Regions from separate parts of the Homo sapiens genome. Here region 1 is linked to region 2. Evidence: fine-mapped expression QTL. A gene starts in region 2. The other region holds a variant in brackets. All regions are shown on one strand. Distances are between the middles of the regions.

Region 1 (2,919 bases), 310 kb after region 2:
TTACGAAGACTTTACATTTAGAAACAGCACGTAGGAATCCACAACTCAAACAATTTCTGATTCCCAAATTTTATTTTTAAATTTGCAACCAACAGTCCAATTAGAGTACATGAGTACCATATGGAGACAGAAATTTTTTTTCAGTTCTGCTATGTTCATTTTGTGGTATTAGGCTGAGTTTTTTGTCGTAAGAAGAGAGATATATATATCTCTCTTCTTACATGTATATATATATATATATATATATATATATATGTTTTTGTTTGTTTGTTTTTGTTTTTGTTTGTTTTTTGTTTTTTTGTTTTGTTCTGTTTTGAGAAGGAGTCTTGCTCTGTCACCAGACTGGAGTACAGTGGTGCGACCTCGGCTCACTGCAACCTCCGGCTCCCAGGTTCAGGTGATTCTCCTGCCTCAGCCTCCTGAGTAGTTGGGACAACAGGCATATGCCACCACACCCAGCTAATTTTTGTATTTTTAGTACAGATGGGGTTTCACCATGTTGGCCAGGATGGTCTTGATCTCTTGACCTTGTGATCCACCTGCCTCAGCCCCCCAAAGTGCTGGGATTACAGGTGTGAGCCACTTTACCCGGCTGAAGACATATGTTAATACAGAATGTTAGATGTTGCTGAAGATGTGAGGAAACAGAATTGCTAAACTGCAGATAGGGTGATTTACTTAGACATGAGGAAGAATTTCTCAACAGCAGAGTGAAATCTTATGTGGAGGTGGTTTGAAAGTTGCATACTTTATGAAATAGTATGTGGCAAAGACTGGGCACACAGCAAGGCCTGTTCTAAGAGGAACATTTCAATTGATTGCATTTGTTACTGTACATGGTATTAAGTCCCAGAATGGGATTTTTCTACTCACCTGGTTGCAATGCTAATAATGACCACCATTCAGCATTGTATACACCAAGTACTTACCAACTGCTACCTTCCAAGGATTTTTTTCAATATTATGTTAACATTTAAACTTATCATTTAAAAAGCTATGAATAGAGCCAGCCTCGCCTGTGTATGAGGAAAAATGATATCTCTGAGGTTTAAAGCATACTGAATTAACACATTCCAAGTCATTTCTTCTTCTTCTTGTTTTTTTTTCCTAATTATGGCAGCAATTAGCTTTGCAGCATTGCATTCATTCCAAACAGCAGGGATGGAAAACAATAATCCTGTTTACCTGAAGCTGGAGAGAGTGTACCTAGCTTTGTTCCCTCCCCAGCCTAATCTAAATGCTTTGCTAGGTGCCATCCCACACAATAGACTGTGACTGAGTCACTAGCAAACCCTCTCCCTCACCTGGTTAATTCACTTGTCACTGTAAACCTCTGCAAGGTCAAGAAATAACAGATAACAGGTCATTTCCAACTTAATAAGGTGGCACATTTTACTTACATTCACTTAAAAAGATAGAGCCCTCAGATATATGAATACCTGTTTTAAAAAAATCGTTCGATCTGTTAAAATTATCACAGGGAAAATAACAGAACTCTCTTGGATTGTTCTTGACAATTAATGGAATAGAAAGGTGGCGATTGTAAATGCTTTTTTTTTTTTTTTGTCTTTGCAGTAATGGAGAAGAGTAAATTATTAAATGGACACATTATTTACGTTTGAAAAAAAGCTGCATCTCATGCTAGGAAAATAGGTTACAGGCAATTTTGCATTATAATGTGAACATGTCATTAGTTTTAATTTTCCACACCAAAGATTGTAGGGTAATTTGCTTTCATTAGAATGGAGTAGTTTTTCCTCTACATACATTATCTTTCAAAC[C/T]TCTATTGCCTCCATGAGAGATTTTAGTTCTTCTTTTCTTAATTTGTAAGAAAAATAGTCTTGATTTTTCTAAGTATCTAAATATTGTGGCAAAAGTTTTATTGCATATAACAAGAGCTGAAACACAGGGTGAACGCACTGCAAATGTGTCATAACCATTGCACAATGCCAAATATCATAATATATGAAGGTATACCACCACCATTTGACATGTTTTAGTGTTGTAGGGCACTAAGTGTACACAGTGTATTTCTCTGCTGTAAAATGTAGGCTACTATAGAGGAAGAACAGTAATCAGTTACACATTAACCATAAAAGGTCATTTCTTGCGGCAAATGATATGTTGATCAAGCAATATTTGTCAGTAGACCTGAGTCTTACTACTGAATGACGCTCATGAAGAAAACCATTGTCCAGTGGGACATCATCATATATGCAAATCATCCATTTGTTTGGATGGTTTAAATATCATCAAGTCTTTATCTTCGCTTCTATAATGTAACTCACTGACTTTTCAGCTAATCAATCCCTGATGCTACATTTTTCTGTTAACTTACTATGCTGCACAGTCAAACAATGATTAATCTCCTAATGTTAACTATGCGATAAGAAAAATATTAAAAGAAAATGAATGACGTATTCACTTGTGTTACAAAATTGTCTATAAACTAGTTTCCCAGCATGAGCTGTGGTTTATTTTCAAACTTAAATAACTTGTCTATGTAACCTTATCTTCCAGGTACTTCCTGCAAACTTCATACATTATGCAATCAAGCCCATAAATATAGGTAGAAGTTAACTTGAATGGCTGAAACAGAGTTAACCACACACATGTAGTTAGAGCGTTATCATTTCTGCCATAAACCTCTCCCTTTTAAGAGATTTACCAAGCTATCATAAAAAATGTGTTATTGCCTGTATCTTTGCAAAACATGAGTTCCTATGAAGTGACTTGCCAGCCTGGGCAACAAAGACAGACCTTGTCTCTACAAAAAAATTTAAAAATTAGCCAGACGCAGTGGTATGCGCCTGTAGTCCTTGCTACACTCAGGAGGCTGAGGCAAGAGGATTGCTTGAGCCCAGGAGTTCCAGGCTGCAGTGAGCTATGATTGCGCCACTGCACGCCAGCTTAGATACC
Region 2 (2,919 bases):
CTACTAAAAATACAAAAAATTAGCCGGGTGTTCTGGCGGGCACCTGTAATCCCAGCTACTCCAGAGGCTGAGGCAGGAGAATCGCCTGAACCCGGGAGGCGGAGGTTGCAGTGAGCCGAGGTTGCGCCATTGCACTCCACCCTGGGCAACTACAGCAAGACTGTGTCTCAAAAAAGAAAAAAAGAGCCTACGGTGAAGGAGAGAGAGATACAGCAGTGAGAATTTCATAGGGTTATCTTTTAACAGAGACGGAAGCTGACGTGAGTAGACCCTGGAAAACGTCTAGGCCCACTGCAAATAACAACATCGATCAAACACTCATAATACAGGTGGATGTGAGTAAAAAGGAGACAAAGAAAGAAGACTACAAGAGAGAGGCCATCTGAAATAATATAAAAATAATTGATCATCTTTGATATGTTTTTACATGGTTGTCTTATTTAAATATTCACAACTCCTGGAGGTAGGGTTTTATTTTACAGAAAAAAAAAAAAAAAAAACTAAACAGGCTCAATGATGTTTAAGTATCTAGTCCAAGCTCACCACAGGGGCATAAAGTGGCAGAACCGACATTAGAGGGTAGACAGAGGGTAACCGCAAGACACAAATTTCGTGTTCTGCAACACTTGTGTAGGCTTCACACACACGTGCCTCCGGGGCCGAAAACAGGCGACACCATAGCACTTGGGCACTGGTGTCACCCGCTTCAAGAGGAAACTAGGATAATTATGACCAAAGGGGAACTTGTTCATTCGCCGGATATTAAAGGTGCCTACTTAAGTGCGAAGAACAGGAGGCATAGCGGTGACCAAACACCTGGCCCCTGTCCCCGCCGGGATCCCAACCTTGGGGACCCCCGAAGCGCCCCGGGCGGGAATCGGGTGGGACGCGGCACGCAGGAGGGAACGGGTGTACTGGGTGGGGTGGGCGTGACGCTGTCACCGCAGGAGATCGGGCGGGTAGGGCGGACCTGGGATGCGGGATAGAGGGGGCGCGGCATTCGCGCGAGAGGGACGCGGTGCGCAACCGGCTGACTAGGGGCCGCAACGCCTAGCGCGCGCGACAAACTACGCAGCGGCGGAGACAACTCTCAAGGGATAGGGCCATCAGCCCTGCGGCCCTGGCAGGTCCCTACCAAAGATCTTGGAAGATGCCGTTTGGGGCACTAAGGGGACCTGAAGTCCTCCCCAGGCTCATTCCCGCCTGGGGGCCTTGGCTCTGGGAAGGCACGCAAGGTAAAGGGAGCGCAACGGAAACTCACCGTCCATGGTCTCCCGCACCGCATTCAGATTCGCCGCCGCGGCCGCCGCCGCCGCCCCAGCACCGCTGCTACTCGCCATGGCTAAGGCCGAGGGAGGCGGGAGAAGGGCCTGACCCGGAACTGGAGCGCCTTCCTCTCTCCGAGGCAATCACACAGCGCGTCTCGGCCCACGCCGGGCAGGCTCCGCCCCTCGCGCTCGCCGCCGGCGTGAGGCTGCGTTGATTTGAATTTGGAGCCACGTTCCTCTGCGCGGAACGTGGAGCGAGGAGTTGCCATTCGAATTTCCTACGCGGCCTCCGTGCGATTGGCTGGTTCGCGGATGGCGGGACGACACGATTGGCTAGTCGCTCACAAGCCCCGTGCCCTGGTTGGCCCAAGACAGCGCGGAAGCGGGGAGTTAAAGAGTCTATGCCTGTCGTGGAAGCTGGCCTGGCCCCCGGAGCTCCCTGGAGTCGGTACTGGGGGCTTCGTTTTGTACGCACCGGTAGGTACGCTCTTTGTGGTCCCTGGCCTTTCCTCCTGTCTGAATGGAGAGGTTTCTTTTCCCAGCTCCTGACTTGCCTGCCCGCTCGCCCCTGGTGAATGGGAGCAGTCAGGGAGTAGGTGTGGAAGAGAGGGGCACCAGAAAGAGTGGCCACGTAGGGTTGGGGGCGACGCCTCCTTCGCACTCCATCCAGGGAAGCCGGCTGCATCTCAACCTTCCAGAAGTAGACTCTTTTCCACCCCACCCCGCCAAGGTGTAGCCTCTGTAGCCTCCTTTGATTGCAAGTAATGCAGTCTCCCTTTCTATCCCGGGAGGGGTGGAGGGGAGGTCTTGGCGAAAGGAGGATTTTTGGAGGAAAGGGGACCCCAGGCAGTTAATTTCCTAGCCCCTGTCAATCATACTTCTCTGGCTAGGACTCATGTGCAAGAAAGGCACAAGCTTCCTCATCTCTTACCTGCTTGCTACAAAGAATTGTTTAATAGCAACTGTAGTTGGATAGGGTATCCGAAGAATGTTCATAGTGTTGAGACATGAGATGATGAATTTAAAAAAAATTGTAGCTATAAGTCCTTTAGTTGAGAAGAGATCTGGGCCTGTTGTAACCTTTAGTTTCCTCAGAGGCAGATCTGAATTCATTCATATTTGATTGCTGCGTATAAGCCACTTCACTTCTCTGAGCTTAATACTTTCGCAAAATAATATCACTAGTAAGTTACTGCTATAGCTTTCAAGGTTGTTTCGAGGATCAGTTGAGAACATTTATATGTGATACTTTTTTTGTAAGCTGTATCATAGCCCCAAGAGTGTGAGGTTTTGAGTTGTTTTTTGTGACACATTTGTCGAGTACATTTTAATAGTTAAAATTAATATCTATGGGACTTTGTAATTTTAACATGCATACTCTTGATTTCTTTTTAGTTTTCTCTCTGTGCTATGGGAGATGTCAAGGAATCAAAGATGCAAATAACACCAGAAACTCCAGGAAGGATCCCTGTTTTAAATCCTTTTGAAAGTCCTAGTGATTATTCTAATCTCCATGAACAAACTCTCGCCAGTCCTTCTGTTTTTAAATCAACAAAATTACCAGTAAGTTATTCCTGACTAGTGTTTACAACTAATTTTAAATGTAAGTAATTACAAATAATTTTAAATGTAAACATCTGTCTTTACAAGG

Direction of the effects. Positions count from the first base shown, and alleles are read on the strand shown. Sizes are in standard deviations (SD) of each study's normalised expression.
As copies of C replace T in region 1, the expression in subcutaneous fat of the gene that starts at base 1,661 in region 2 goes up (large effect, 1.2 SD a copy in TwinsUK).

The links.
Region 1: its variant is fine-mapped to the expression of BORA in subcutaneous fat (TwinsUK, PIP 0.95).

The regions. Positions count from the first base shown.
Region 1 is chr13:73,038,654-73,041,572 of GRCh38, forward strand. No RefSeq gene overlaps it. Among named protein-coding and RNA genes, the nearest start is that of KLF5, 19 kb to the right of the region's middle. RefSeq lists an enhancer at 1-105. The variant C/T (reference allele first, on the strand shown) is at 1,782.
Region 2 is chr13:72,726,263-72,729,181 of GRCh38, forward strand. It overlaps BORA (BORA aurora kinase A activator), which reads left to right and starts at 1,661. Exons shown (of 12, transcript NM_024808.5): 1 at 1,661-1,745; 2 at 2,664-2,831. The coding sequence starts at 2,679. It overlaps MZT1 (mitotic spindle organizing protein 1), which reads right to left and starts at 1,367. Exons shown (of 3, transcript NM_001071775.3): 1 at 1,262-1,367. The coding sequence starts at 1,340. RefSeq lists silencers at 813-872, 828-1,009, 1,533-1,682 and enhancers at 1,103-1,172, 1,893-1,942.